Linked DNA regions of Homo sapiens: regions 1 and 3 are each linked to region 2. Evidence: fine-mapped expression QTL. A gene starts in region 2. Each other region holds a variant in brackets. All regions are shown on one strand. Distances are between the middles of the regions.

Region 1 (10,751 bases), 57 kb after region 2:
AGAATCCTGTTTTCTTGCAAAGGCCCTCAGAAGCCAGCAGACACCTATTTCACCCAGGAGGTTCGGCAGGGAATCGGGTGGGGATTTCTTTGTCATTACACTGACTTGATCTTTCCCCACCCTGCAATGCACAACCTAACATGTCCTCCTCCTAGGAACAGAGCCATGTGCCTGCCCTGATGCTCAGCCATTGATGAAGCCCCTTTGTCATTTTACACAGTGCATGTGGCCCAACCACACAGAAGCCGTGGCTGGCAGAGGTGATGATGGGAGGCAGATTTTCCACATTCTTGGCAACATTATCTGTAGTGAAACTTTAGACTTCAGTTGAGAAGGTCGCTGAGTGCATGGAAGATCCTTCTTTCCCTGATTTCTACCAGAACTGGCTGGGCAGTGGCTGCAGGGTTACTGGGAAATTTCAAACTTGGGGTGGAGCCACAGGACTCCAGTGCAGGGGGCTGCTGGTGTCCCTGGTCCAGGCCTTGCTGACACTGGGGGGCGTTGGAAGGGCCTGGGCAGATGGGAAGAAGCTCCCACTGGAGCCAACAAGAGACCTTGCAAGGAAAAGCTGGGAAGGGGGAGTGGCGACCATGGGGTGACCTCAAAGACAGATGCTGGCAGTGAATGAATATTGCTGAGGAGGATAAGGCCGTCTGAAAAAGCTGCCTACTCCATGATTCCAAGCCTATACAATTCTGGGAGAGAAAACTCTAGACACAGTGAAAAGGATTCTTGTTGCCAGGGCTTCTGGCAAAGGGGAGAGGGATGCACAGGGGAAACACAGGAAGTGTTTAAGGCATGCAGCTACTTCGTATGGGTGGTGAATGGCATTCGGAGTTTGTCACAACCCATAGAGGGCACAACACGGTGAACCTCCATGCAAACTCCTGACTTCAGATCGTAAAAATGTATCCATATTGGTTTAGTCATTGTTACACACATGGACCACACCACTGAAAATGGGGTTAAGAAAAGAAAAGGGTGGACAAAGGATCTGAGACCTTTCTGTTCTGTCTGTTCCATTTTCATGTTAATTTCAAACTGTTCTACACAATGACTATTTTAGTCAAGGTTGGCAACACTCTTTTGAGTGGATGTTTAACACTCAGGTGAATGTGTCAACATAAGATTGAGACGTTGCTTTCCAGTAAAATGGTACCATCCTTTAAATTGTAAATACATCTTTACTTCTACAGTTGCAGAAACAGCAATGACTTCATTTTAGATGTGTGTAGATGAACTGCAAGAAGACTAAGGCGTAACAGTGTGAGAGTTCTGACTTCAGTACGGGACACAGAACCCCCTAGAATCTTGATGATTGAATGAACTTCACTGACTTTCCACAGCACCTTCAATGGATGGTTTTCTGGGATGAACTCAATTGTCTGCCCAGTTGTGGGTTTTTCTGACCCACTGCGTGGGGCCAGCAATAGACGGTGCTGACTCCTTGGTAACCACTGTCAGATCCTGGAGGCAACAGCCTCCCAAATGTATGACGATAAAGACAGCTGTTGACATCTTGTTGACAGGATTTATGAGAAATTCATACAAATTGATTCACACTTCAACCTTTTGATTCTCTTGGGATCTTGAGAGATGTGGCTGAGCCCAGAGAAGAGCTCATCTCAGATGATGTTTAACACTCACCTGAATATGTAACATTAGATTGAGATGTTGCTTTCTATGAAAAGTGTCGCAACTTTACATAGTATGTTTCTTTTCTAGTTGTAAGACTAGTGATTGACTTAACAATTTAGATTTTTCACAGATGAACTCAAAGAAGACCACAGCATAACAGTGTTAAGAGTTTTGTCTTAAATATGGGACACTGAACCCACCAGGAACCAGGATGATTGAATGAGCTTAACTGATTTTCCACAGTACCTTCAACTGATGGTTTTTCCCGCTGCACAGAATGGTGTGGCCAGCTGTGGATTTTTCTGACCCACGGCCTGGGGCCAGCCATAAAGTGTGCCGACTCCTCAGGAACACTCTCCTACCCTGGAGTCAACGTTCTCCCAAGTTATTACAAGGAAGACATCTTGCTGGGAGAATATCATAGAGAAACTTACAGCAATTGATTCCCAGTTCAAACTTTTGACCTTTTTCACCATCTGCATAAGAATCCACCTGAATCCGAGTAGGGCTCTGGGAAGCCCCTGCAGTGTGTGTTGCACTTAGTACTCAGCAGACTGTGTAGGCAAATACCTGCCTTCAGAGGAGATGATATAGAGAGGCAGCAAGTACTGTGTCCGGAATTGGTGGGTTCTTGGTCTCACTGACTTCAAAAATGAAGCCGCGGACTCTCGTGGCCAGTGTTACAGTTCTTAAAGGCCCCCTGTCTGGAGTTTGTTACTTCTGATGCTCGGATGTGTTTGCAGTTTCTTCCTTCCGGTGGGTTTGTGGTCTCGCTGGTTCCAGAGTGAAGCTGCAGACTTTTACAGTGAGTGTTACAGCTCATAAAAGCAGCGTGGACCCAAAGAATGAGCAGTAGCAAGATTTATTGCAAACAGCAAAAGAATAAAGCTTCCACACTATGAAAACGGGTCGGAGCGGGTTGCCACTACTACCTCTGGCAGCCTGCTTTTATTCTTATCTGGCCCCACCCACATCCTGCTGATTGGTCCATTTTACAGAGAGCCAATTGGTCCATTTTACAGAGAGCTGATTGGTCCGTTTTGACAGGGTGCTGATTGGTGCATTTACAATCCCTGAGCTAGACACAAAAGTTCTCCAAGTCCCCACCAGAGTAGCTAGATACAGAGTGTCCATTGGTGCATTCACAAACCCTGAGCTAGACACAGGGTGCTGATTGGTGTGTTTACAAACCTTGAGCTCTATATAGAGTGCCGATTGGTGTATTTACAATCCCTTAGCTAGACATAAAGGTTCTCCAAGTCCCCATCAGACTCAGGAGCCCAGCTGGCTTCAGCCAGTGGATTCCGCACGAGGGCCGCAGGTGGAGCTGCCTGCCAGTCCCGCAAGGTGCGCCCGTGCTCCTCAGCCCTTGGGCAGTCGATGGGACTGGGCGCCGTGGGGCAGGGGGCAGCACTTGTCGGGGAGACTCAGGCAGTGCAGGAGCCCACGGGGGCGGGGTGGAGGTTGGGGAGACTCAGGCTCAGGCATGGGGGGCTGCAGGTCCCGAGCCCTGCCCCACGGGGATGCAGCTAAGGCCCGGCGAGAAGTCTAGCACAGCAGCTGCTGGCCCAGGTGCTAAGCCCCTCACTGCCCGGGGCGGCGGTGCCGGCCGGCCGCTCCGAGTGCAGGGCCTGCCGAGCCCACGCCCACCTGGAACTCGCACTGGCCCGCAAGCGCTGCGCGCAGCCCTGGTTCCTGCTCGCGCCTCTCCCTCCACACCTCTCCACAAGCCGAGGGAGCCGGCTCCAGTCTTGGCCAGACCAGAAAGGGGCTCCCACAGTGCAGCGGCGGGCTGAAGGGCTCCTCAAGTGCCGCCAAAGTGGGAGCCCAGGCAGAGGAGGCGCTGAGAGCGAGCGAGGGCTGCTAGCACGCTGTCACCTCTCACTGGGGGGCCAGGCAGTCCTGCTCTTATCCCAAGTCAGTTTCCCACAGGAGGGATCTGCCCAACCTAGTGCTGGCTTTTTCAAGTGCTTCCTTTGCATATTCTAAATCAACTCAAAATGGATTAGAGACTTCAATGTAAGACCTGAAATCATAAAACTACGAGAAGAAAACACAGGGGAAAAGCTTCCTGACGTTGCAAACCGTACATCTCATAAGGAGGCAATATCAAGAATATATACGGAACTCATGGAACACAGTAGCAAAAAACAAATCACCTGATTGAAAATGGGCAAAGAACCTGAACAGATATTTATCAAAAGAAGACATATAAATGCCCAACGGGTGTATGAAAAAGTGCTCAACAGCACTAATCATCAGGGAAATGCAAATCAAAACCTCAATGAGACATCACCTCACACCTGTTAGAATGGCTATTATCCAAAAGAGGAAAGATAACAACTGTTATTGAGGATGTGGGGGAAAGGGATCACTGTACACTGTTAGTAAAAATGTAAACTTGTACAGCCATTATGGAAAATAACATCCATCCACAGATGAATGGGTGAGGGAAACGTGTCTACGCAATGGAATATTATTCAGCTCCAAAAAAGAAGGAAATCCTGCCATTTCCAACAGCCTGGATGAACCTGCTATGCTAAGTGAGATAAGTAAGCACAGAAAGACTAATACTGCATGATCTCAGCCTGGTACAGTGGCTCACGCCTGTAATCCCAACACTTCAGGAGGCTGAGGCAGGTGGATCACCTGAGGTCAGGAGTTTGAGACCAGCATGGCCAACATGGTGAAACTCCATCTCTATTAAAGATACAAAAATAGATTGTGGTGGTGCACGCCTGTAGTCCCAGCTACTCGGGAGGCTGAGGCAGAATCGCTTGAACCCAGGAGGCAGAGGTCGCAGTGAGCCAAGATGGCACCACTGCACTCCAGCCTGGGCGACAGAGCGAGACTCCACATCAAGAAAAATAAATAAATAAATAAATAAATAAATACTGCATGATCTCACTTATATGTGGAATCTAAACTAACCAAACTCATAGAAGCAGAGAGTAGAGTAGAATAGTCGTTGCCAGGGACTGAGGGTTGGAGAAAACGGGGTGTTGTTTAATGGGTATAAAGTGTCAGTTATACAAGATGAGTAAGTTCTGGAGATGTAACGTACAGCGTGTAACAACACTCTGTTGTATACCTGAAATTTCTTAAGAGAGTAGATCTTAAGATCCTTAACCACCCCACCTCCAAAAAAGAAAGAAAGTGGTAACAATGTAAGATGGTGGGTGTTTTAGTTTGCGGTGATCATTTCACAATGTGTATTAAATATCCGGTTGCCCACTTTAAATATATACAATGTTTACTTTTCAAGCATATTCAGATAAAGCTGGGGGAAAACAAACAGCTTTCTGGGGCCATTGTTTGCAGACCCCTGAGTTAGGGCATTGTGTGATGGCTGGGTCAATTTCACTTCAGCATGGTAAGAGGCACGTGACAAAAACTGGCATGAAAGGGGCTGTTGGAACCAAGGGGCAGGAAAGGGCTGCCCTATAGGATCCGCCAGAAGACAGACCGGCATT[T/C]CACGAAGTGAGCAAATTCCGGAGGAAATAAAGGATTTCCGTTTTAAGGGGTTGGGAGGCAAGAGAAAAGGCTGAGAGGGTGTGTGTGTCTGAAATGGGGTCTCTGGGTGAGAAAACGTGTGAGATAAAGTGCGAGGCTGGAAAAACGCGCACGTGTGCAGGAGGCGGGGATCTGCTGCACCGAGTGTGCACATTTGCACGAACCGTGGGGGCGTCTGCGGCTGTGGGTGGAGAGGAAATCCTGGATCACACATCTGAGAGAGGGGGTGTGGGTGGGAGTGGGAGAGTATGTAAGAGCGTGGGTCGTGACAGGTGAGGGACTTGTGTGTGCAACTGTGCGTCCTGCGAGAGTGAGGAGGTCTCGGACTGAGGAACTGCGTTCAGTGCTCAGTGGTGAGTTCCCACGCAAGAGCCTGGGGAGTCAACCAGAAAGACCCGCACGCGGGGCGGGCCCAGCGACCTCGGGCGCCATCTGCTGATTACCAGACGCCACTACCTGAGAAAGGCCCCTCCAGTCTCCTCATTGCCCAGCTGCGGACCCTAAGCTGAGCCATAACCGTCCTACCAACCCACGTCAGCAGAAGAGCCCAGTGGGAGGGCGTGTGTTCACTTCTGCTCCTCTGGGCAAAGACGCCCAGGTCAGAAACACCCACCCGACCCTCCCACTACCCAGAGACAGCCCCACCTGCACAGCTCAGAGCAGGACCACTGACCCTCTGGCTCTCCGGTCATATTTGCTATTGAAGACCAGAATAAAGTATTTTTATCAGGATTGAATACATGACTCATGAATGAATAAATTCATTCTCCTTACATATCGGTTCCTATTGAGAAATATGGTGGCTAGAATTTATTTCCTCCGGAAAGAGGAATAAATGTGGAGCCCCTGGGTTTGGTGCTATTTATTACCCATTTCTCTGATGTTGTAAGAAAAGAGAGATTCAGAAGAAATATCACATTTCAGCCCCGAACTTACGTAGCTTGCTGCCGTTCTAGGTGATTTACTTAGATTGGCTTCTGCATTTTGACAAATGAGGAAATTGGGAGAATTAAAGCCTCTGGTTTTAAAGCCTGCTGCTGGGTCAAGTAGAACTGTGACTTTTATTTTTTTTTTTTTAGACAGAGTCTTGCTCTGTTGCCCAGGCTGGAGTGCAGTGGCACAATCTCAGCTCACTGCAACCTCCACCTCCCGGGCTCCCTCAGCGATTCTCCTGCCTCAGCCTCCCAAGCAGCTGGAACTACAGATGCCCACCACCACGCACGGCTAATTTTTGCATTTTTAGTAGAGGTGGAGTTTCACCGTGTTGGCCAGGCTGGTCTCAAACTCCTGACCTCAAATGACCCACCCACCTCAGCCTTCCGAAGTGCTGGGATTACAGGTGTGAGCCACCGTGCCCGGCCCAGAACTATGACATTTTGTTTTTGTTTTTCTCTGTTTCTTTGAAAAGAAATGGAGTGAAGGTGCAGAGATATGAGATAAATTATTTAAACACATTATTATTATTGTTGTTATTATTATTATTATTATTATTATTATTATTGAGTCGGAATTTCACTCTTGTTGCCCAGGCTCGAGTGCAATGGCATGATCTCAGCTCACTGCAACCTCCACCTCATGGGTTCAAGTTATTCTCTTGCCTCAGCCTCCCAAGTAGCTGGGATTACAGGCATGCGCCACCACGTCGGGGTATTTTTTTTTTTTTTTTTTTTTTTTAGTAGAGATGGGTTTCTCCATGTTGGTCAGGCTGGTCTCGAACTCCTGACCTCAGATGATCCACCCACCTCGGCCTCCCAAAGTGCTGGGATTACAGGCGTGAGCCACCGCACCCTGCCTTAAACACGTTATTAAATCAGTAAAATGAAGGGCCTGACAAATAAATGACCACTGAGCTAGGATGTAGAAGACCAAGGCCTGGAAGAAGGGGAGTCTGCCTCTTCTGTCACTGGTGAGCTACGACCTTCCCTGCAGGCACACCCTACGCTGTCCTTCAGGCTGGCTCTCCATGCCCTCGGGGGCCTCGGTCCAAACATCTGGACAAAGGCCCTATGAAAGGACCTCTAACAAAATATTTTCCACCATATTCAGCTAGAGTTGCATGTTTTTCTATTTTTCCTAATGAGAACATAGGACTTGAGAACTGATCATGTGTCTTCGCTTTAATTTGAAATGATCAGAATAATCTGAAAAAAACAGAACTATTGTCCAGGAAATGAGAGAGAACTGAATTCAGTCACTTAAATATATAATCAAATCCCTTCCCCAGCCTTCCCCCACATGTGCTGGTTTTTTCATTCTCACTCTTCAAACTGATCACCTATTAATCATCTAAAACCACAACAAAATGCTTTTGAAAACTTTTTAAAAAGAAGTGCATCTCATTTTATGTAAGTTGTGATGTAAGAAAAATAGTAAGATTATAAAAATATTTTTTACTTTTGATACAGTGACTAGCAAAGGTAAAAAAAAAAAAAAAACATAGGACATCGAAGGGTCAATTCATTGTCTGGGAAGAGGTTTTGGATTTATTTACCAAGCTTCTAAACATGGATCTTCCTAATCATAGAGAAAAAGCCCTTTCAAAGCAGTTGTTGTAGGCCGGGTGCAGTGGCTCAGGCCTGTAATCCCAACACTTTGGGAGGCTGAGGTGGGTGGATCACCTGAGGTCAGGAGTTTGAGACCGGCATGGCCAACATGGTGAAACTCCATCTCTATTAAAAATACAAAAATAGATTGTGGTGGTGTACGCCTGTAGTCCCAACTACTCTGGAGGCTGAGGCGGGAGAATAGCTTGAGCCTGGGAGGTGAAGGTTGCAGTGATCGCGCCACTGCACTCCAGCTTGGGCGACAGAGACTCCATCTCAAAAGAAAAAAGTGTGGTCTAGTGAGGGTGATTTTAAACTGATTAGGTTTAATTCATTTCCTTGATCTAAATATGAAGTGTTTTTACTCTGTGAGCAGAAAGTTTTTGAAACTAGTTCATGAAGGTGAGTCCAGTGGTATTTTTCTTTTTTACTTCTCAGCCTTCTACGAAAGGCAAATATAAGACAGCAAAATCCAAAGAATGGAGTTATTAAGGCTGCAAGTGGAGTCCGAGGCCAGTTCCATGCCAGGCATGGTGCGTGCACTGAGAGACAGGGATCCTCTGCTCCAGGAGCCGAAGGCACATGCTGTTTTGCTTACTACTGAACTCTACTACACATTTAAAGAAGAACCATTACCAATCCTACTCAAACTCTTCCAAAAAACTAAAGAGGAGGGAACACTTCCAAACTCACTTTACAAGGCCACCATTACCCTGATACCCAAACCAGACAAGAACACAACAACAAAAAAAAGAAAACTACAGGCCAATATTCCCGATGAACATAGAGCCAAAATCCTCAACAAGATACTAGCAAACTGAATCTAACAGCACATCAAAAAGACCATTCACCATGATTGTTGATGGCTGATGCAAGACCTCAGTTCTTGTCTTCTTAGTTTAAGAAAATTTAAACAGACTCACAGCAAAGGAGATGCAACATAGAGTAATTTATTGCAAAAGAAAAAGACTATTTTGGGCTAGGTGCAGTGGCTCACACCTGTAATCCCAGCACTTTGGGAGGCCGAGGTAGGCAGATCACCTGAGGTTGGGAGTTTGAGACCAGCCTGACCAACATGGAGAAACCCCATCTCTACTAAAAATACAAAATTAGCTGGGCATGGTGGCACTCAGGAGGCTGAGGCAGGAGAATCACTTGAACCCAGGAGGCAGAGGTTGCGGTGAGCCAAGATCGTGCCATTGCACTCCAGCCTGGGCAACAAGAGCGAAACTACATCTCAAATAATAATAATATTTTGAAAGTTTGGTGCAAAATAGATAATATACCCTGGGAGAGAGAATTTTGTTGCTCATAAGGGCGAGACAGCAAAAACTGGCACTAGGAAGACTCTCTTTATGGAAGTCTTACACGATTATTCATAAAGGGTTGGAAGAGGTGTTGGTAGTAAGCATCTTCTGGGTGGTCCTCTTGCCCATGCACAGTAGCTGTACATGATTGTTCATACATTGCATGTCTCATTCGCATCTTAAATCTCCACCCAGGGGTGGTTTTTTTTACTATTATAATGAGCAAAGGGTCAGTTTGAGGACAGGTAAAATCAAACTGTTCATGCTCTCCAGAGGGGAAAGTCCCTACTGAAGATAGCTTTGCTTGAATGAGCTCAATTACAATGCAAATACTGAGGCTTATTGTGTTGACTGTATAGTCACCACAGTTACTGCATCCTGAGAACATGGTTACTTCTTTGACTACCTATCCTGCTTCATGATCAAGTGGGATTCATCCCAGGAATGCAAGGATGGTTCAACACATGCAGATCAATAAACATGATACATAACCTAAACAGAAGCAAAAACAAAAACCATATGATTATTTCAATAAATGCTGGAAAATAATTTTGTAAAGTTTAGCATATTAAAAACCCTCATCAAAATGGTTATAGAAATAACATAGCTCAAAAAAAATGAAAGCCATGTATGACAAACCCATAGCTAACATTGTACTGAATGAGGATAAATGGAAGGTCTTTCCTCTAAGAACTGGAATAAGACAAGGATGCTCACTTTCACCACTTTATTCAACATAATACTGGAAGTCCTGGACAGAGCAATTAGGCAAGAACAAGAAATAAAGGGCATCCAAATTTGAAAGGAAGAAGTCAAATAAGCCTTGTTCACAGATGACACGTCTTATACCTGGAAAAATCTAAAAACTCTACGAAAAAACTGTTAGAACTGATAAACAAATTAGTAAAGTTGCAGAATACAAAATCAACATACAAAAATCAGTGGCATTTCTAATTTTTTTTTAGACAGTCTCACTGGGTTGCCCAGGCTGGAGTGCAGTGGCACGAACATGGCTCACTGCAGCCTTGATCTCTTGGACCTAAGCGATCCTCTCACTTCAGCCTCCCAAGTAGCTGGGACCACAGGTGCATACCTGGCTAGATTTTTTTTAAATGTTGTAGAGATAAGATGGGGTCTCACCATGTTGCCCAGGCTAGTAGCAGTTCTATACACCAACAAAGAACATTCTGAAAAAGAAATCAAGAAAGGAAGCTCATTTACAATAGCACCAAAATAAAAATAAAACACACAGGAATAAATTTACCAAGAAGTGAAATAGCTCTACAAGGAAAACTATAAAACACTAATGAAAAAAATTAATGAGGACACAAAAAATGGAAAGATATTACATGTTCATGGATGGCAAGGATTTTATTGTTAAAATTATAACACTACCCAAAGCAATTTACAGATTCAATGCAATCCCTATCAAAACCAATGACATTCTTCACAGAAAAAGAAAAAATATATAAAATTTATGTGGAACCACAGAAGACCTCAACTAGCCAAAGCAATTCTGAGCAAAAAGAACAAAGCTGGCGGCATCACACTATCAGACTTCAAAATATACTACACAGCTATAGTAACCAAAACAGCACGGTACTGGCATAAAAACAGACCACACAGACAAATAGTACAGAATAGGTAATCCTGATATAAATCCATGCATATGAATTTACAACAAATTTTTTTTTTTTTTTTTTTGGAGACGGAGTCTTCTTGCTCTGTCACCCAGGCTGGAGTGTAGTGG
Region 2 (10,751 bases):
TAACCCAGCCCCAAGCATAGGACACAGATGAAATGAATAAATGTGGGTGTGTGCACGTGGCCATGAGTAAAGGTGAGACACTGGGAAGTCTCCTGGGGTGGGCAAGTGTGTGAGTCGGGTGAGCTTCCCCTCCCCTTACCCAGGGCTCTGTAGGCAGGCACAATGGTGACCGTGATGGGCTCCGCAGTCCCCCTGGTCTGGATGGTGAAGACGAGAGCATCGGGGACTCTCTGCTCCATCCTCAGGTCCTCGAGCCCGAGGTCCAGCAGGTCCTGGCTTTGCCACATGGTTTTCCATATCAGCCTCAGAACATCTTTGTGATGCTTGGCTGCCTCCTGGAAGCTGTGGAAACAGCTCAGAAACGCCACCAGCTCCACCTCTCTGGTGCTCCTGAGAACCGTGCCATTCCCGAAGGAGCCCACCTGCAGAACACAGAGCCCCGTCACCCTGAGGCCCACTGCCATGAGCCAGGCAACCCCTGCGGCACTTCACATGCACTGTCTCACTGAATGCTCACCACCCGCTGAGGGATGGGTTGTGGGTAGTACTAATACCCACACTTTACAGGTGAGAAAACTGAGATGTCTGGAGGATCTCGAGACATGGGATGGAGAAATGGGGCAGCCTGAAAAAGATCTTGACACTTCCCTGTTTCTTAGCTAGGTAAATGTTCTGACTCCTAAGACCTTCATCTCTAAAATGAAAGCAATGGCAGAATATGAGTCACTGGGCTACTGGGAGGATCAGATGAAATAATGTATGCCAAGGGTTTGGTGGGGTGCCTGGCACACAGGAAGTCAGCAACACATTTGTCTTTCTCCTCATTAGTCATTTGTCTCAGGTCTCGCAGTTTGCAGCCCTCAGAGCCCAGACTCTTTTTTTTTTTTTACACAGGGTTTCACTCCCGTTGCCCAGGCTGGGCTGCAGTGGCATGATCTTGGCTCAAGCAATCCTCCCACCTCAGTCTCCCAAGTAGCTAGGACTACAGGCCTGCGCCACCATGCCTGGCTAATTTTTGTATTTTTTGTAGTGACTGGGTTTTGGCATGTCGCCCAGGCTGGTCTCGAACTCCTGGACTCAAGCGATTTGCCCCCTTGGCCTCCCCAAATGCCCAGCTTCTTATCTACTACACTGCATTGCTTCTGAGACCCAGTCTTCTTACCCACAGAGTAAGGCCTACTCCAGAGGAATGGTAGCATCTACTCCATAGGGTTGTTTGAGGATTCTGGGGGTGGTGGTGGGGCTGAATAATTTCATGACATTATAAAGCAAGGAGCAAGTTTGCCTGGTGGATTTAAGAGCCATAGGCTGTGAAATGGAGCAGCCTGAAAAAGATCTTGACTCTTCCCTGTTTCTTAGCTGGGTAAACATTCTGACTCCTGAGACCCTCATCTGTAAAATGAAAGTAATGTTGGAACAAGAGTCACTGGGCTACTGGGAGGATCAGATGAAATAATGTATGCCAAGCGTTTGGTGGGGTGCCTGGCACACAGGAAGTCAGCAATACATTTCTCTTTCTTCTCATTATCCAGCTGACTTAGACAATCTCTTCTGCTGCCGGGGGGTCAGTTTTCCTGTTAGTAATGGAAGGAGGTCGAGAAGGGATTTTTCGATGTTTTGAGATTCTAGATGAGCTCTCCAGGCCCTGGTGCCTCTGGTATGCAAAGCGCCACAACTCTCTGGCCTCCTCTCCTTCTCATTCTGTGTTGGGAGGTGGAATTGCTAGGGAGGCATCAGACCCCCAGAAGGCTACTTTTCTTGGTGGTTGGAGTCACTGCACAAGAATCAGATTCCAGCTGTTGCCGGATGATATAACATGCCCTGTGTGACATGAGCACGGATGCTGGATGACATGAGCACGCCCTGTGTCTGGCACCCATAAGAGCCCTGTATACATATTATTCCTTTTAATCTTTACTTCCCAGCCAGGCATGATGGCTCATGCCTGTAATCTCAGCACTTTGGGAGGCCAAGGTGGGCGGATCATGAGGTCAGGAGTTCGAGATCAGCCTGGCCAACATGGTGAAAGCACATCTCTACTAAAAATACAAAAATTAGCCAGGTGTGGTTGTGTGCACCTGTAATCCGAGCTACTGGGGAAGCTAAGGCAGGAGAATCGCTTGAACCCAGGAGGCAGAGGTTGTGGTGAGCTGAGATCTCGCCACTACACTCCAGCCTGGGCGACACAGCGAGACTCCATCTAAACAAAACAAAACAACAAAAAAAAACGCCTTCACTTCCTGTATTGAGGTGGGTACTAGGAGAATTATCTCCAATGTACAGATGAGAAGACTGAGGCAGTGAGGAGCTTGCCATGGTCTCCCAGCCAGAAGGCAGCAGAGTCAGAGAAAGAGCCAGAACTCAAGTAGGGGATGGTTCTTCCGCCTCTTTCTTCCTCGTGACCCAAGGCTGTGAGCCAGGCCCTGCTTCCAAGGGACCATGGGCATTCAGACCCAGCACCTCCACCCCCTGGGAGAGGGTTGGAGATGGCACCCTGTGTGTGAATGAAGGACACATTCCCCCCGAAGGCCAGTCTAGACTTCCCTTTCTTTTTGAGACAGGGTCTTGCTCTGTTGCCCAGGCTGGAGTGCAATGGCACGATCTTCACTCACTGAAGCCTCGACCTCCTGGGCTTAAGCAATCCTCCCACCTCAGCCTCCGGAGTAGCTGGAACTACAGGCATGCACCGCCATGCCCAGCTAATTTTTTATATATATTTTTGTAGAGTCGGGGGTCTCACCATTTTGCCCAGGCTGGTCTCGAATTCCTGGGCTCAAGCAATCCTCCCACCTTGGCCTCCCAAAGTGCTGGGATTACAGGCGTGAGCCACTGTGCCTGGCGTAGACTTCCCTTTCTGCCTTTCCCACTGGTAAGATCCAGGCAGAGAGAAAAGAACACATCCAGAACAGGCTTCCTGATTTGCTTCAGTTTTAAACCTATTTAAGCACAATTCATTTGAAGACGAGCATTCCCTTATGTGGACCAGCTCCGCTCACTAGATTTTCAGAGGGTGGGGAACGGGAGGGTTTAGACTCTAAATAAGATATATTATTCCTCATTAGTCATGGCTCACTGGGGATTGCTACCATTTAGTGGTTTCAAGAGGAAAAGTGGCTATGATGTGCAGGAAGTATTTGAGGCTTAGGTAAATAGCATTTCCTGCCGTAAAAACTCATTCTTGGCCGGGCGTGGTGGTTCACACCTGTAATCCCAGCATTTGGGGAGGCCGAGGTGGGTGGATCACTTGAGGTCAGGAGTTCGAGACCAGCCTGGCCAACATGATGGAACCCCGTCTCTACTAAAAATGCAAAGATTAGCCAGGCGTGGTGGAACACACACACACACAATAAACTTATTCTTGTAGCATCCTCCTCTTACCAGACATTCCTTATTCCCTCCACTTTATTCTCAAGTTTGTTGGGGAGGGGGTGGTCTAGGAGGGTCTGCCAGAGTCAGACTTGAGTCCCAGGCCCAGAAGAAAGCTTGGCAAGAATTATAATGATGCTTCTGTTTCTGAGCATTTATCGTGCATGAATCATTCAGCCTGCATTGCACCACTGGCTTGGTGAGGGAGAGATGATGATGATGCCCCAATCACAGATGAAAAGAATGTGGGTTTGAGAAAGAAGAGTGGGAAGGTCAAAACCACACAGCTGGTAAAGGAAGAAGCGAAGAGTCTGTCTAATATCAAAATTTGTGGTTTCTCACTTATAAATTGTATGGCCTCAGGCTTCATATGCTGGGGATAGGTGCAAAGAACGGATAGGGGCCCAGGGCTTCTAGATCCCTCTGTGAGTTGGTTGCCCCTAGAGAGAGAACTTGAGCACTGGGCTGGGAGTCAGGGGTCCTAATTCTAGTCTTGCCTTTGCCACCAACTCGCTGTGTGACCTTGGGGTATCTCTCACCCTCTCTGTGCCTCGGTTTACTTAATTTTTTAAGTGAGTCATTGGTGAGACTGTCTGATTCTCCAAAGTCTTTCTAGCTCCGACCCTCTTGAATTTTGATCTTAGCTAGCACAGGCGGTGGCATGAAACAGCTGGAGGAAGGGCTTGGGGGAAAATCTCAGTGAGGGGGGCTTGGGTCCCTTGAGTCAAGTTCAAATCCCAGCTTCAACACTGTGTGACCTTGGGCAAGTCACCTCACCTCTCTGAGCCTCCATTAAAAAATCATTTTAGGCCGAGTGCAGTGGCTCACTGTAATCCCAGCACTTTGGGAGGCCGAGGAGGGCAGATCATGAGGTCAGGAGATCGAGACCATCCTAGCCAACACGGTGAAACCCTGTCTCTACTAAAATACAAAAAATTAGCCGGGCGTGGTGGTGGGCGCTGTCGTCCCAGCTACTTGGGAGGCTGAGGCAGGGGAATTGCTTGAACCTGGGAGGCAGAGGTTGCAGTGAGCTGAGATCGTGCCACTGCACTCCAGCCTGGTGACAGAGCAAGACTCTGTCTCAAAAAAAAAAAAACAAAAACAAAAATCATTTTATTGGCCGGCCAGACATGGTGGCTCACACCTGTAATCCCAGCACTTTGGGAGGCCAAGGTGGGCATATTCTTGATCCCAGGAGTTCGAGACCAGCATGGGCAACATTGGTGAAACCCTATCTCTACAAAAAATACAAAAATTAGCTGAGCATGGTGGTGCATGCCTGTAATCCCAAGCTATTTAGGAGGCTGAGGATCACCTGAGCTCAGGGAGATTGAGGCTACAGTGAGTGGTGATTGTGCCACTGCACTCCAGCCTGGGTGACAGAGCGAGACCCTGTCTCTAAAAAAAAAAAAAGTCATTTTATTATCAAAAAGTTAAAACACATAGAAAAATAGATGATACAACTAACACTCATATACCCAACTAGTTGATTCAACAAGTCTAAATTCCTGGCTACATGTGCTTAATCTAAGCCACGTTAAAGTAAATTATAGGCACCAAGGAACTTTGTCCCTAAAATACTTCAGTGTTCGTGTCCAAACAAAAGACAACCTTCTGATAACCACAAAACTACTGTTACACCTAACAAAATCAACAATGATTTCCCATATCAGATATATGTACTATCTGATATCTAGGCCAGTTGTCCCCAAACTATATTTTACAGATGGTTCATTCACACTAGGATCCAACCAAGGACCTCGCATTGTATTGGTTCTGAGCCTCCATTTGCTAATCTGTAAACTGGGCAAAGAATAGTACCTATCTCACAGAGTGCAAGAATTAGAGATAGTGTATGTTAAGAGGTTAGTCCAGTGAGCCCCCAAATGTGAGCTATTATTACTAGACTCATTCTACTCAAGGCAGTGGTGCAGTGGGGTGTAGACAGCTAGGTGGGATGGGGTATTCTGAGATGTCATCAGCATGGGCTAGGGATAAGGAGGACAGGGGTCCCCAGCATCCCCAGGGACGTGGACTCTGATACTGGGTTTTGTCTTGCGTGGGGGCTGGAGGAGCCCAGTCTTACCTTGACTACCTTCAGCACCCGCACATCCTGGTCCAGCCCACGCTTCCCCTGGAAATGCTCCTGCCTCAGAAACTCCTCCACGGTCCGCACAGCGTCTAGCACCTCTTCCTTCCACTCCCGGTGGGGCTGCAGCCACTGAGCCACGAAGGAGTCCAGCCTGGAGGCTGGTGTGCTATACAGTTCCTGCATCAGTGCCATCTCTGTCCCGAGAGTACCGCTGCTGGGCAGATATATAGCCAGGCTCCTACCCAGCTCCCTGGCACACACCTCCTTTTTTAAGGTAGCTCCTCCTCAGCTGCCCTCCAGTGCTCTGTGGGAGGAGGGACCCTAGCAGAGAGGAAACCAGGTGTGACGGGCTGACTCCAGGTCCCCCTTCTTGGAGACACCCTTGCTGCAGTAGGGGCACAGGAGGACTCTGGGCTGAGGCTGGAATATCTGGGGCCACCTTAACAGGCTGGCCGTCTAGTCAATCTGTCATCAGTTTCGATTCTCAACTTTTAGAGTTCTCCTTTATGACGTTGGGAAACTGAAGTTGGATAGTGTTTGACCCCAAAGGAGGCAACTTGCCCAGTAGGTTGGGGTTGGATAGTTGTTAGTCAATTCAACTGCTTACATCTGTCTAAGGAAATTGAGGCTTGGGAACGGAAGGGACTCACTAGTGTTCAGGTGGTGGAGTGAGAATCTGGAGCCCAAGAGAACAGACTGGGAATTCTAGTCTACCTGTGCCAGACTCTAACCTCTTTGACCCTCACTATTCATAGAGTGGGTTTTTTTGTTTTTTTGTTTTTTTTTTTTTTTGGCCGGGTCTTGCTCTGTTGCCCAGGCTGGAGTGCAGTGGTGCAATCTCAGCTCACTACAACCTCTGCCTCACGGGTTCAAGCGATTCTCCTGCCTCAGCCTCCCTAGTAGCTGGGACTACAGACATGTGCCACCACGCCCGGCTAATTTTTTTTTTGTATTTTTAGTAGAGACGGGGGTCTCACCATTTTGGTCAGGCTGGTCTCAAACTCCTGACCTCAAATGATCCGCCCACCTCGGCCTCCCACAGTGCTAGGATTACAGCGTGAGCCACCGCGCCCGGCCCATAGAGTGGGTTTAACAGGTATTATGATTCACGCACTGAACCAAGAAGTTCATGCATTGAGCCAAGAAGACAAAATAAGATGAGGTTCCTGTTCCAAGGGGACTCCCAGAACGGTGGAGGAGACACAGAAAAAAGAGACTGCAAAAGTCCAGTGCGATGAGTTAAGTAGGAAAAAAGCATGAAAACATGAAGCCGGCAGATGAGTTTCATTTGGTGTTAGCAGACACCTGCTTGAGAGGAATCTTAAAGACTGGGGATCCGGGCTGGGCATGGTGGCTCATGCTTGTAGTCCCAGCACTTTGGGAGGCCAAGGTGAGAGGATCACTTGAGGCCAGGAGTTCAAGACCAGCCTGGGCAACATAGCTGGACACCTGCAACTTCCCAAACTCTGAATAATATTAAGTGCTCCAGGGCTTAGTCCTGGGTCCTTTTCTCTTCTTGTTCTAGACTTACTCCCTTGGTGATTTCAGCCAGCGTTTAAATGTTTTTACTCTGGCAACTTCCACATTTTAATTTTATTTTTATTTATTTGTTTATTTTTGAGATGGAGTCTCACTGTCTCGCCCAGGCTGGAGTTCAGTGACACAATCTCGGCTCACTGCAACCTCTGCCTCCCAGGTTCAGGCGATTCTTGTGCCTCAGCCTCCCAAGGAGCTGGGATTACAGGAGCCCGCCACCGCGCCTGGCTAACTTTTTGTATTTTTAGTAGGGACAGTGTTTCACCATGTTGCCCAGGCTGGTCTTGAACTCCTGATCTGCCCTCCTCGGCCTCCCAAAGTGCTGGGATTACAGGCGTGAGCCACCATACCCAGTGACTCCCACATTTGTATCTTAAATCCATACCTCTTCCCTGAAATCCAGACTCATGTATCCAACTCCCCACTCCACATTGGCTTTGAATTCCGGTCTGCCCTTTGCCACACTTGTAACTTCTCTGCTTCTGTGGTGAGGATGATTGCAAGGGCAAGAACAGATGTAGGGAGATGGTCAGGACACTGCACAGTGGTGCAGGTGAGAGGCAGTGGTGGCCTGGAGTTTAAAACTCCAGTTTTTGTTTTAAAAACAAAAAGTTTTTTAAAAAATAGCTAGGTGTGGTGGTGTCCACCTGTAGCCCCAGCTACTTGGGAGGCTGAGGTGGGAGGACCACTTGAGTCTAGGAGTTTCAGGCTGCAGTGAACTATCATGGTGCCACTGCACTCCAGCCTGGGTGACAGCATGAGACTCTGTCTCCAAATAAAAAATAAAAAAGACTGGCACTCCAGCCAGGAGGATGAGGGTACAGCATAGAGGCTGAGAAGTATAAATAATGCTAGGATATGCCAGGGACTCAAGTGTGCTGTGTGCCTTGGGATGAAAGGGTGAGCAGGGGAGAGGTTAGAAATGTACCTGGACAGGTGGGCAGGATTGAATCTTGGAGTGCTATTCACTCATTCGTTCACTCATTCAACAGATACTTACTGGGCACCTACTCTGTGCCAGGCAGGTGCTGTGGATACAACAGTGAACAAACAGTAGTGAAAAATCCCTACCTGCAGATAGTTTTCTTTCTGGTAGTGGAGACAAACAACAAATAGGATAAATAGGTAAAATTATAGTAAAGAAGACGGTGATAAGTGCTAAGCAGAAAAACAAAGCAAGAGAAGGGATTAAGAGGTTGTGTGTGTGTGTGTGTGTGTGTGTGTGTGTGTGTGTGTGTGTGTTGGGGGCATGTATTTAGGTTTCAGTCTTACATAAGGTGATTAGGGAAGGCCTCCCTGAAAAGGAGACATCTGAGCAAAGACATAAGAAGGTGAAGAGTTTGGGAGGCCAAGACGGGTGGATCACAAGGTCAGGAGATCGAGACCATCCTGGTTAATACGGTGAAACCCCATCTCTACTAAAAGTACAAAAAATTAGCCGGGCGTGGTGGCAGGCACCTGTAGTCCCAGCTATTCGGGACGCTGAGGCAGGAGAATGGCGTGAACCCAGGAGGCAAAGCTTGCAGTGAGCCAAGATTGCACCACTGAACTCCAGCGAGACTCCGTCTCAAAAAAAAAAAAAAAAAAGAAGGTAGAGTGAGCCACGTGTGTAACAGAAGGAAGAAGATTCTTCATGGCAGAAGGAGTGGAAAGTACGAGGACCCTGTGGTGGTACTGCCCGGTGGCAAGTATAAGGAACATCAGTGTGCCTGGAACGGAGTGATCAAGAGCAGAGAGTGGAAGGGAATGCGGTTTAAGTAGTAAAGGGTGGCAAGGCAAATAGATACAGGATCCTTTTTTTTTTTTTTTTTGAGATGGAGTTTCACAATTGTTGCCCAGGCTAGAGTGCAATGGCACAATCTCGGCTCACTGCAACCTCCACCTCCCAGGTTCAAGCGATTCTCCTGCCTCAGCCTCCTGAGCAGCTGGGATTCAAGGTGCCCACCGCCACACCTAGCTGATTTTTGTACTTTTAGTAGAGACGGTGTTTCACCATGTTGGCCAGGCTGGTCTCTAACTCCTGACCTCAGGCGATCCACCCGCCTCGGCCTCCCAAAGTGCTGGGATTACAGGCGTGAGCCACCGCACCCAGCCAGGATATAAGATCTTTTTAAAAAGATTTATTCCATAAACAAGGAGCAGGAGTGGATAGGATCTTGAAGACGACTGTTAGGAGTTGGCTTTACTCTGAATGAAATGGGGAACCACTGGGGAGCATTTTTTGTTGTTCTGTAGGAGTCTGACACCATACATTGGAGAGTTTTGAGTGGAGGAGTGACACGGTCTTTCATTTTAATGGAATTAATCACATTGGCTGCTGGGAGGAAATTAAATTAGAAGCAGAGGGTGGAGTGGAGGTGAAAGTGGAGGCAGAAGTATGGTTAGGAGGCTACTGCAACAGTCCAGGCAAGAGGTCAGTTGACTTGGATCAGAGTGGTAGCAGTGAAATAGTATGTTTTAATTTTTCTGATTTTGGAACATTTCAAACAAAGTGGAATAATACAATGAACCTCCATGTACCATCACCAGTTTCAACAATGATCAACTTATAGACAGTCTGGTTTCAATTCTACCCCCATCCCTAGATTCCCTACTGTGTTATTTGGAAGTGAATCTGGACATCATGTCATTCCGCTGGATATATTTTGACTCCAAGGCTGACAGGTCTTGCTAATGGGTAGAGTATGATGAGAGAGAAAGATCAGAGTCAAGGTCTAAGTCCGGGGCTTTTGGCCTTAGCAACAGAAAGGTTGAACTGCCCTTAACTGAGGTGGGATAGGCTGGGCATGGAGATGAGGAAGGAACTCAGTTTTGGAACTGAAGTTTGGGGTGTCTGTCAGAGACCCAGGTGGAGATATGTGGTGGGGAGTTGGATATGCGAGTCTGTATTACAGGGAGGAGGTCTGGACTTGAGATAAAATGTGGGGGTCACCGGCATAGGGATGTTTAAAGCCATGACACTGAATGAGATCACCAAGGGAGTGATGACACAGCAGGAAGAGAAAAAGACCCAGGACTGAGCCCCAGAGCACTTAATATTATTCGGAGTTTAGGGAGTTGCACGAGTCCAGCAAAGAAGAAGGAAAAGAAGTAGCTAGTGAGGTGGAAGAGAAATCAGGAGTGATGGTTTGAAGGCCAAGTGAAGATATTGTTTTAAGAAAGAGGAAATGGGATGGGCATGGTGGCTCACACCTGAAATCCCAGCACTTTGAAAGTCAAGATGGGAGGATCGCTTGAGCCCAGGAATTCAAGATCAGCCTGGGCAACATGGCAAAACCCCATCTCTACAAAAAAATACAAAAATTAGCCAGGTATGATGGTGAGTGCCCATAGTCCCAGCTACTCAGGAGGCTGAGGTAGGAGGATCACCTCAGTCCAGGGAGGTCGCGGCTGCAGTGAGCCATGATCATGCTACTGCACTCCAGCCTGGGTGACAGAGTGAGACCCTGTCTCAAAAAAAAAAAAAAAAAAAAAAGGAGAAGAAGAAGAAGAAGAAATGGAAATGATCCACTGGGTTAAAAGAGTGCCAGGTGAATCTGCTTTTTGTCCTGAGGGCAGTGGCAAATTTAGGGGAGTGGCATGTAGTGGAGTTAAGATTGGTCTGGCTGCTTCCATGGTGAGGACGAACCGCAGAGGGCAAGGGCAGATGCAGGGAAATGCATTAGGACACTTCGCAGGGGTGCAGGTGATAAGCAGTGAGGCCCAAGACAAGGCTGGAAGCAGTGCAGGTGGAGAAGAGGGGTTGGATTCTAGGTCT
Region 3 (10,751 bases), 220 kb before region 2:
ATCACCCAACCCCCACCCTCTCAGTCATTTTTAGATAACAACTTTTAAATAACCACATTTTTTAGTTTCTTATCTAGCCTTTTGGAGTAAACATACAATATAAGAACATTATTTCTCACCACTTCTTATGAAATAGGTAGAATATTAAATATACTGCTCAGTATCTCCCTCTACCCCCCTTTTACAATATAGCCTAGAAATCTTTCTGTATCAGGATGTGGAGAACTTCCTTTTTAAAATTTTCTTTTAAACATCAGCATGATAGTCCATTGTGTAGATGCCCCACAGTTTTTGTTTTGTTTTGTTTTGTTTTTTAAGAACAAGTTCCTTACAGGTGGACACTGGGGTTGTTTCCAAAAACTCTGCTGTTAACAAGTAATTCTGTAATAATGGGCCTTGTAAATTATACCTGCATTGCACACACATGAAATGACCTGTTTGTATAACATTCCTCAAAGTCAGATTGCTGGCTCAAAGGGGAAATGCACTTGCAATTTGATAGATGTTGCCAAAGTGCCCTACAGAGAGGTTATACCATTTCACACTCTCATCCGTAATGAACTCAATGCTCCTACTTTCCAAAGTGAGTATTGTCTAACTTTTGAATTTTTACCCATCTGAGAGATGAAAACTGGTATCTCAGTATGGTTTTTATTTGCATTAAAATTGTAATTAAAATTTAAAAATTAAAGTGAGATTGAGCAGCTTTTCTTTTTTATGATTAAAGGTCAGCAGGTATTTTTAAAAGGCAATTTAAAGTTTTCTCCAGACTCCAGAGCTATAAAAAAACAAGAGCGGCTTTCTTCTGAGGAACTTTTCTTCTGATGGTGTCTTACTTGGATGACTTTGTTTTTGTATCCTTTGTATTTTGAAGCATATTGTCACTACCCTCAAGGCAGATTAAATATCTACACTTCCCAAATTCACTGCCTTAAAGTCTGATACTATTGTTTAATTATTTTGCTACATCTCTCAAATCAATGGAGACTCTCTAGAAACTCTTAACCTCAGACTTCTGGAAGTCTGGAATTTTTATTTTATTTTATTTTATTTTTTGAGACAGAGTCTCGCTCTGTCGCCCAGTCTGGAGTGCAACGGTGCGATCTCGGCTCACTGCAACCTCCGCCTCCTGGGTTCAAGCAAAATTCTCCTGCCTCAGCCTCCCAAGTAGCTGGAATCACAGGAGTCCGCCACCATGCCCAGCTAATTTTTGGTATTTTTATTAGAGACAGGGTTTTGTCACGTTGCCCAGGCTGGTCTCAAACTCCTGACCTCAGGTGATCCACCCACCTCAGCCTCCCAAAATGCCAGGATTACATGCGTAAGCCACCACACCTGGCCTGGATTAAATTTTCAAAAACCAGCTCCTCCCTGACAGATCTTCTGTGCTGTGCTCCAGCCTCTGAGGAGCTGTAGCTACTGACTTTCTTCATAGTCTGTTTTTCTAGATGAAGGTTTGACCATGTGCAAAATATAAGAGTGTGACTAAGGTTGCCAGATCTCACCTCCATATCCTGGCAGTGAGCATGTCCCCCACTGCAGAACTAAATGCCTGATTTCAAAAAAACTGTTCAGATGTTTAATGGTTTCTTCTAACTTAAGTTTTGTTTTAGCTTTCAAATAAACCTATACAAGAAAATCTGATTAAAGTTCACCCCTAATATTGTACATGGTATTTTATAATTTATACTAAGATCTTAAAAAGTTCTAACAATTTGGCAAACTTTACCAAATATCACATAACTAGAAGTTATAGATTATTTTACGATGTTATTTGAAATTTCATATACTATTTTCAATTCAAACTATCATTATAAAAGTTTTTGTTGTTGTTTCTTTTTGGAGACAGGGTTTCACCTGTTGCTTAAGCTGGAGTGCAGTGGCACGGTCTTGGCTCAGTGAAACCTCCAACTCCTGGACTCAAGCAATCCTCCCACCTCAGCCTCCCAAGCAGCCAGGACTGCAGGTGTGAGCCACCACAGCCTGCTAATTTTTGTATTTTTTGTAGAGACAGGGTTTCACAATGTTGCCCAGGGCTGGAGAACTGTGAATCTCTGTGATTATTAGTGTTTTTTAAGATCAAGAGCCAGATGCACTTCTGATCTTAGGAGGCCTAATTCCAGAGTCTCTCAAATTGACTTCAATATCTGCCCAAAACTGGATGACAAACTGAAGTTTCTATCTGTAATTATACAGTAATTAGCTATGTAATCCTCCCTGGGCAATCCTTTATATCTTTCTATTACCTATAAAATCCTCTTTGGGCCCAGATAAACTTGAAGGCCAAATTAATTTTTATTTTTCAAGGGTCTAGGTTTTGGCTGGGTGTGGTGGCTCATGCCTGTAATTTTGACACTCTAGGAGTCCGAGGTGGGAGGATTACTTGAGCCCAGGAGTTCAAGACCAGCCTGGGCAACAAATGAGATGTGACTCTATGAAAAATTAAAAAAAAAAAAATCAGCCAGGCACGGTGGGGCGCGCCTGTAGTTCCAGCTACTTGGGAGGCTGAGGTAGGAGGATCCTTTGAGCCCACAAGTTTCAGGTTGCAATGAGCCATGATCGTGCCACTGCACTTCAGCCTGGGTGACAGAGCGAGACCCTGTCTCAAAAAAGTTTAAAAAGTCTGTATTTTTATATTGTTTTGCTTTCAAAAACAGAAATATTACCAGAAATACTCTTTCCATCTTTCATGTTGCCCATCATTGACATAGCCAAAGAGGCACTGCCACAGATGACCCTGTTTCCAGGTGACTAAAATTGGTATTTTCCTCTTTTAATCACCCAATATTTACAGATTTAAAAATGGCTTAATATAAAATCTTACATTATACCAGTAGACATATATGAAGGTAAGCCATCATCTTACCCTGGGTAGCAACTCTGGTTCGTTTATTCAACCCATGGGAAATTCTTCCCTAGGGTCTTTTTAAAAAATGTGGCCAGCCTTAAGGCTAATTTACAAACTCTTCATTTTCCCTCTGCTAGACTGCTTTATCCCATATTTGTTTATGCCCTTGGTCTCCTGAAGTAGGCTCACTTTTCACCTACTCTACAAGCTCATAAAAATGAGCACAGAGCGGTTTCAAAAATGTCTAAAGGTTTTCACTGCTGGTAACGACAGGGAGGAAAAGGGCCCCTCCTGTATCATCCTCTATTCTGTTCTTTGCCCACACAAAGAAAGCAAGCGTTCATCAGCATTTCAGAAATAGACACAGATTTTACTACAGGAGCTGGGGTTTGGGGATCTGGGGTAAGACTACGATCAATGGAGCAGACAGGGAAGAAAAGGTATTCCAAGGAAAAAGGGTGGGTAAGTCTGGCCAATAATAGGAAATCAAAGCCCAGCAATCTTATTTCACAGTCTCTCCCTATCCTACATTTCAGACTCTACCAAAGCATCAACAGAAATGTGTCATTCTTCAGGCCCTCCTACTGAGGTGTCTGTTCCCAGAGGCTCTGGGCGGACATGAAAGACAGGAACTACTCTATTCTGAGATAAAGGAATTCTTACTGAAACACAGAAAGAAACTAAATACATGCATTTGAGACACACCAAAATCAGGTTAGCCAAATGTATTGAAAACAGTCTTGAAGACTTTGTCAACTGATGTATCAGTATAGGCCAGCTGTTGAGTTGAAATATTTTATATATTCATTATGAAGACCACTAATTCTTTAACTACATTCCTGCAAGCCTTTACCTTAATAGACAAAGAGTTACCAGAAATGTCTCTCATATACAAGACTAAACTCTAAACCCTAAGATTTTTAGAACCATGCTGGATTTTAGTAACTGCTCTACAGTCAAACATCTATTTCTAGCTACTTTACCAGCAAGTGCTTATAACACATATCCTGCTAAAAATCATGCCAAACTGAGACACAGAGAGTACTGTTCTATAACGTGTTCTATGTGTCAGCCTTCCAGCTATACAATGAAAGCATTCTTGTCCACCCCAAAACCAAGCAACTACTATTCTAACACTGCACAGACATTGCCTTAGACCAGCACTTCTCTAACTTTGTGGTTGCAGAACAATTTACACTCTTAAAATTGAGGACTCCCAAAGAGCTTTAGCACATGTGGGTTAGTGATATTTACCGTATTAAATTAAAACTGAGAAAAAGTTAAAATATTATTTATACACAATAAAACCATTACATGTTAACATAAATAACATTTTTTAAAGGGCAAATATCTATTTTCCAAAACAAAACAGAACAAAAAAATTAAGCGAGACAAGGAACATTCTTCACATGTTTGCAAACCTCTTTAATGTCTAGCTTAAATGGAAGATAGCTGGATTCTCATATCGGCTTCTGCATTCCATCTACTGTCATATGTTGTTTGAACTGAACTCCATGGGGAAAAAAATCCAGCTTTACACAGATGGATAGTTGGAAAAGAAGGAGTACTTCATAGCCTTTTCAGATAACTATCAATATTCTTCTTTGATACTACACTAAAATTCAACAAGTGGTAATTTCTTAAAGGTTTACTGCAATGTGGAATTTGAAACTATCTCAATGGATTTTTTTGAATTTTACTATATTACATTAAAATCCACTGGACTATCCTGAACTTTGTGTGAATCTTT[T/C]ACCCATGGATGATTTTGTAACATCATGCATTGGTAATTTGGAAGATACTGATTTGCTGAGTTATGCCGCTCTTCCAGATGTTGTCTCTTTTCATTATACAATATCTGAAAAATCATATTGTTAGTACCATTCTTGGGGCTTATGGTAGCAAATACAAATTTTCAAAAATTCTATTTTCACTTGAAAGCTCAAATTTTATCATTGATAAAAACACTTTTTTTCCCTTTAAGTGACAGGCTCACTTGATTCGTTTTTGAGAAACTATCTGCCAAATATGCCCAAAAGTCATTCTTTCAAGTAAAAATGGTATTCCAATTTTAAACAAATCTAGTTCAGTTAGCATCTCAAATGACTGCACAAGTGGTTTCCTCAAGATAACCAATGGTACTTTGGAATACAGCAGAAGTGCTTTGTGGAAATTTTCCATTTTATCATTAAAAATTTCCATTTTATCACTTAGTGTACTCAAGGGTTAAAACTTAACAAAAGAAACTTTTACTGCTTCGTCAAGAACATTCTAAGTGTAAATGGCATTTCAGAAGATAAGCTGGGTGCCTGGTGATGGAGAACACCATGATTACCAGGACCGCCTGGTGCCACTGCCTTGATTCAGGTGAGGGCGCACCAGAGGTTTTACCCACCATTGCTTTGCCACCATGAGAAAAAAGGTGCGAAAATGAAAAAGACAAGTAATGTTAGTAGTACTATGAAAACCGTATGACCCTATGGACCCCATGACAGGGTCTCAGGAATCTCCCATGGTCCATGAGCCACATTTCGGGAATTGCTGCCTTCTACCTTTACCCATAAGCTCTGGCTATGCAAACTGCTAACACCTTCTCACATGCAATTCTTACAGATCACAAAACACCAAAGGTTGTTAGAATTTTTTTGCTATCCAAAATTTCAAATTTAAAAATTATATGCAAAAAAACTTGTATTCCATGCTTACAGAAATGTTCATTTTTCCCTTTATGGAAATATGTTGAAATAGGACTTAATTTGTATCTTTCTCTAAATTTTTTTTTTTTTTTTTTTTTTTTGTGAGACAAGAGTCTCGCTCTGTCGCCCAGGCTGGAGTGCAATGGCACAACCTTGGCTCACTGCAAGCTCCGCCTCCCAGGTTCACGCCATTCTCCTGCCTCAGCCTCCTGAGTAGCTGGGACTACAGGCGCCTGCCACCACATCCGGCTAATTTTTTCTATTTTTTAGTAGAGACGGGGTTTCACCGTGTTAGCCAGGATGGTCTCGATCTCCTGACCTTGTGATCTGCCCGCCTCGGCCTCCCAAAGTGCTGGGATTACAGGCGTGAGCCACTGTGTCCGGCCTATCTAAAAATATTAGTCTAACATTATAATGTTGGAGATCATTGTTTTCCACATTTCCCCATATTTTAAAGGAAAAAACCAAATATGTATTGCAAGCTTAATAACAGAATAGGTATGTTATGAAATAAAAATTTAATACATTAAATTTAACCATTTACGTGCAAGGTACAAGTAGTAAATAAAATAGTTACTTAAGGCTGGGCGCAGTGGCTCACGCCTGTAATCCCAACACTCTGGGAGGCTGAGGCAGGAGGATTGCTTGAGCCTAGTAGTTCAAGACCAACCTGAAAAACATATGGAGATCCCACCTCCACAAAAATATCAAAATATTATCCCTGCATTATCACAAAATATTTCATGGAAAGACATATATGAAATATACTATATGTTAATATTTTATATTTTACCAAGACTAATACAATGAAAAAATGATTACTTCCATCAGAGATACAAAATCTGCTGACTGAGCAAATTCATATGAAAGAAAGGTATTAGTCTTCAAGGCAGTAAAGATGATCTGGAGTAATTTTGTTTTCAAATACATCTTATTGCCTAGGATAGATAAGAAAGGATTTATTGCCGGGGGCGGGGAGAGGGATTGAAACAGAAAGAAGACCCCACATTAAAGGCTTCGATGGCAATATGCTTCAACTTTTTCCTATGAATTATCCTCTAAGACAGGTCCTCACATCATAGTTTCCAAAGCATGCGCTTTTGATTGTGACTTGCGCACACAACCAGCAACACACTGTGGTTCCTGTGTTCAACACTGCAGCCGGAAACAGCCCTGGGCTGGCTGCAGCAAACATAAGGCAAGGGAAAGAAATTAGGCAACTGGTTTCCTCGGACAAAGCCAATAGGTACAAGCTGGATAAAGCAGTTTTGCATTTTTATTTGGCCAAGGGACTTATTTACAGAAAAAAAAAATTATAATACAGCTTTTGAAGGTATCTTTGTATCATGATCCAAGACTGCTTTAGAACTTGTACAAAATAAATCTCCTTAAAAACTTGCAAAAATCTATGTTAACATGCTGGTTGAAATTACTATTTCATAAGAAAAATGCTACTGGATATCTAAATACCCTCTCAGGATATGTGCTCATAAAACTTACTAAAGCCTAGGTATTTGCCCCAAATAACTGAAAGCAGGGACTCAAACATACTTGTACACCAATTTTCACAATGGCTGGGCCGTGAATAATGGGTTGGGTTGGGTGGAAGTAACCCAAGTGTCTATCGGTGAATGAATGGATAAATAAATTGTGGTACAGCCATCCAATCAAATATTATTCATCCTTAAAAAAGAAGAAAATTCTGATACATGCTACAACATAAATCAACTTCAAAAACATGATGCTATGTGAAATAAACCAGAAAAAAGAGACAAATATTGTTATGACTCAACTTATATGACAGACCTAGATTAGGCAAATTCATAGAAAAAGAAAGCAGAATAGCGGATACCAGGACTGGAGAGAAAGGGAATGGGGAGTTTTTGTTTGATGCATACAGAGTTTCTGTTTGGGATGATGAAAAAGGTCTGGAAATGAATAGTGGTGACTGTTGCACAAAACATAAGTGAACGTACTTAATGTTACTGAACTGTACACTTAGAAAAAGTTCAATGGTAAATTTCAAATTGTATGTTATGTATATTTTACAATAACAACTTTTATAAAACTTAAGGAAAATTTTAAAAACTGCTCTTAACCTCTAAAAGAACTGGTTTTTACTGTATCTGTTTCATTAAAAGATTATTCCCTGCCATTTAATGCTGATAATAGTTTTAGAAATGATTCTAGAAACGAAGTCTTAAAAGCATCCCTACAATTCCAAAATCTAACTTCAAGAAGAAAATTTCCAGTGACTTTTAAAAATGAATGCTACAGATTGACATTTAGTTATTTCCTGGGGGCTAACCTCTCCTAGTGACAAATTCTGTGGACAAGCAAACAGGAGCCTAAGAGTTTAAATCACAGTTCATCCCTTACTTCTATCAGGACAAACTAGGGTTTCTGTCTGGGATGATGAAAAAATTGAAGAAGGAAAGTCTCTTGAGCCCCAGAGCAAGGAGGGATTAGACAGACTGAATTTCAGTAGCAAATCTCCAATGACCCTGGGGGCACACTTCTACCTGCATATACCACGGTCACCTCAAATTCAACACATCTAAAAATCAAACCAAATCTCTCCATCATCTTGCAGTATCTAATGTCTGTTACAAGCTCCAACTAGAATAAATACCTCTGGTCACTGTTCTGTCCTATCTTATGTATCACCACATGCATGAGGACTCTGCTAGGTACTAGCACTCCATGATAAAGACTCAGCCCCTACCACCCACCAAGAATTGCCTAACAGGGAGACAAAAAGAAGTAAACAGGTTGCCAAATTAAACAGACAGGTGTAGGAACTCAGCATGGAGGCCTATGTGACAGTGCGACCTGCTGGGAGTTCACAAAGTAGTCAAGCAGTTCAGTTGGGCTAGAGAGGAGAGAGCAAGAGTGAGTGATCATGCGTGCAAGAGACAAAAAGCAAGAGCTAGAGCATATTCCCACAAAGGTGTCTGTGAGAGACGGAGAGTGTGTGTGTGGGGGTGGGGGGTGGGGGGGCGGCGGCGGTGGCGGGGAGGACAGAGAACAAAAGGAAGAAAGGCCAGTTCACATAGGGCTACCAAAGCTAGGGATCTGGCTGTATTTGCCGTCTTCACTGGTATCTCCTTGTCACACTGTGCCTTCTATCCCCAGCACTCCATGGAATTTGCTCTCCCCAAGATCATCAACAATCTTGTTGTTACTTAATCTAGTAACACTTCAGTCAATATCTTACTTGATATCCCCGCTCCCCTTGCAGGATCTGACAACAGTAGCCACTTCCTTTTCTTGAAACAATTTTATCCCAGCTCCCACGACATCCTACTGGATTTCTTCCCTGCTCTCTGGCTCCGTATTTTCTCCTTCTCCTCTGCCCATCAGGGCTCTGTCATCAGTTCTCTTTACTTCTTACTCCACATCTCATCTCTGGGTGATACTGTCTACTCTCATGCCTTTGGTTATCATCTATATAGGCTGATGATTCCCTTTTCCAAGTTGTAACAGCAATCTTTTACTGAGTCATGTGCCCAGCACTGTCCTAAGAGCTTCCCATTATGATCCCCATTTTGTACAGATGAAAAAACAGAAACATAGTGGGGTGAATTAACCTATTTGTTTTACTATAGTCATTGTGTTTTATATAATTCACTCTATCACAAAGACATTTTTTTTTTTTTGAGACGGAGTCTCACTCTGTCGCCCAGGCTGGAGTGCAGTGGCGCAATCTCAGCTCACTGCAAGCTCCGCCTCCCGGGTTCACACCATTCTCCTGCCTCAGCCTCCCAAGTAGCTGGGACTACAGGCGCCCGCCACCAAGCCCAGCTAATTTTTTCTATTTTTAGTAGAGATGGGGTTTCACGGTGTTAGCCAGGATGGTCTCGATCTCCTGACCTTGTGATTTGCCCGCCTCAGCCTCCCAAAGTGCTAGGATTATAGGCGTGAGCCACTGCACCCAGCCCACAAAGAAATTTAAAAGAATGGCACGAAGAATTGTTAGGAAGAAGCAAGCTGAAGACCTACGTATCACATAAAACCACTTTTATTAAAAATGGGACTATTTCACATTTCTGTATTATTTGAGTTTTTAAAATAACACTAAAATTTTTTTTTAATGGAACACAGGATTCTGGTGGAAACGTTAGCAAAAAAGACAAAAAAGTGTTAGTGATGTCTGATTTGGCTATATTTTTCACTTATACTAAATACTAAAAGCTTGTGTTCTTCAGTCGGATATAGAATTTAACAAGTAATACTACAGAGTAAGTTCTATAGCAGAATTTAATTTTCAAAGAGCCCAATTTAAATACAATGGTTTTCTTAAACTTTTATTTTTTCTGAGACAAGGTCTCACTCTGTCACCCAGGCCGGAGTGTAGTGGCATGATCACGGCTCACTGCAGCCTTGACCTCCTTGGGCTCAGGTGATCCTCTCATGTCAGCCTCCTAAGTAGCTGGGGAGACAGGCGCATGCCACCACATCAGGCTAATTTTTTTTGTTTGCAATTTTTGTAGAGATGGGGTTTTGCCATATTACCCAAGCTGGTCTTGAACTCCTAGACTCAAGTGATCCTTCAGCATTGGCCTCCCAACTTGCTGGGATTACAAGCGTGAAGCTGCCTGGCCTTCTTAAACTTTTGACACTGTTTTTCACACAGAAAAGAGTAACAAACTTCCATGCCCTATTCATTTGAAAAGACAATTTAAAAACACTTAAGTAGCTACTGTAACAACATATTTCTAGAAAGCTTAACTGCAGATGGAATGGAACAAATGTTAAAGGGTAAACATGCCCCCCACCCCCAGTCCCTTTCTCATAGTGTGCCCTTCCTTATATGACACTACCTTAAGTCTACTGGATAGTCATTATATTTATAACACAAATGGAATCTTAATTACTAACACCTTAAACTCATTTAAAAAAAAAGGACAGATCCAAACTTACATAATGTCAGTTTGATCCAGAACAATGTTCACAAATTTTAATTCATTAAATCCAAAATAATAAAGTTTTACTAAATTAATAATTGAAAAACTATATAATCCAGCCAATTATTTAGTTTGAAAAAACAAGCCTGACACACTAAAAAGGAAATTATGGCAAAAGCAGCCCCAATTCAGTTAACTGAATTTGTTATCAAACAGACCTGATGTATTCAGAGAAAAATTTTTCTGTGAGTTAGGAAACACTAAAGAGCATCTGTTTATTGAGCACCTGAAAGGAGTTTGGCT

The links. PIP is the estimated chance that this variant, and not a neighbour inherited with it, causes the effect.
Region 1: its variant is fine-mapped to the expression of OASL in whole blood (TOPMed, PIP above 0.99).
Region 3: its variant is fine-mapped to the expression of OASL in whole blood (TOPMed, PIP above 0.99).

What each region holds. Positions count from the first base shown.
Region 1 is chr12:121,090,542-121,101,292 of GRCh38, forward strand. LOC105378258 (a long non-coding RNA gene) reads right to left here and starts at 2,454. Exons shown (of 4, transcript XR_007063492.1): 1 at 1-2,454. It overlaps LOC105370031 (a long non-coding RNA gene), which reads right to left. Exons shown (of 4, transcript XR_945458.2): 4 at 10,149-10,188. RefSeq lists an enhancer at 2,543-3,044. The variant T/C (reference allele first, on the strand shown) is at 5,112.
Region 2 is chr12:121,033,322-121,044,072 of GRCh38, forward strand. OASL (2'-5'-oligoadenylate synthetase like) reads right to left here and starts at 5,925. Exons shown (of 6, transcript NM_003733.4): 1 at 5,453-5,925; 2 at 140-422. The coding sequence starts at 5,650. RefSeq lists enhancers at 5,089-5,590, 5,591-6,090, 5,670-6,089.
Region 3 is chr12:120,814,689-120,825,439 of GRCh38, forward strand. The region is part of intron 1 of SPPL3 (signal peptide peptidase like 3); the gene reads right to left. Among named protein-coding and RNA genes, the nearest start is that of SPPL3, 84 kb to the right of the region's middle. RefSeq lists an enhancer at 8,200-8,269. The variant T/C (reference allele first, on the strand shown) is at 4,599.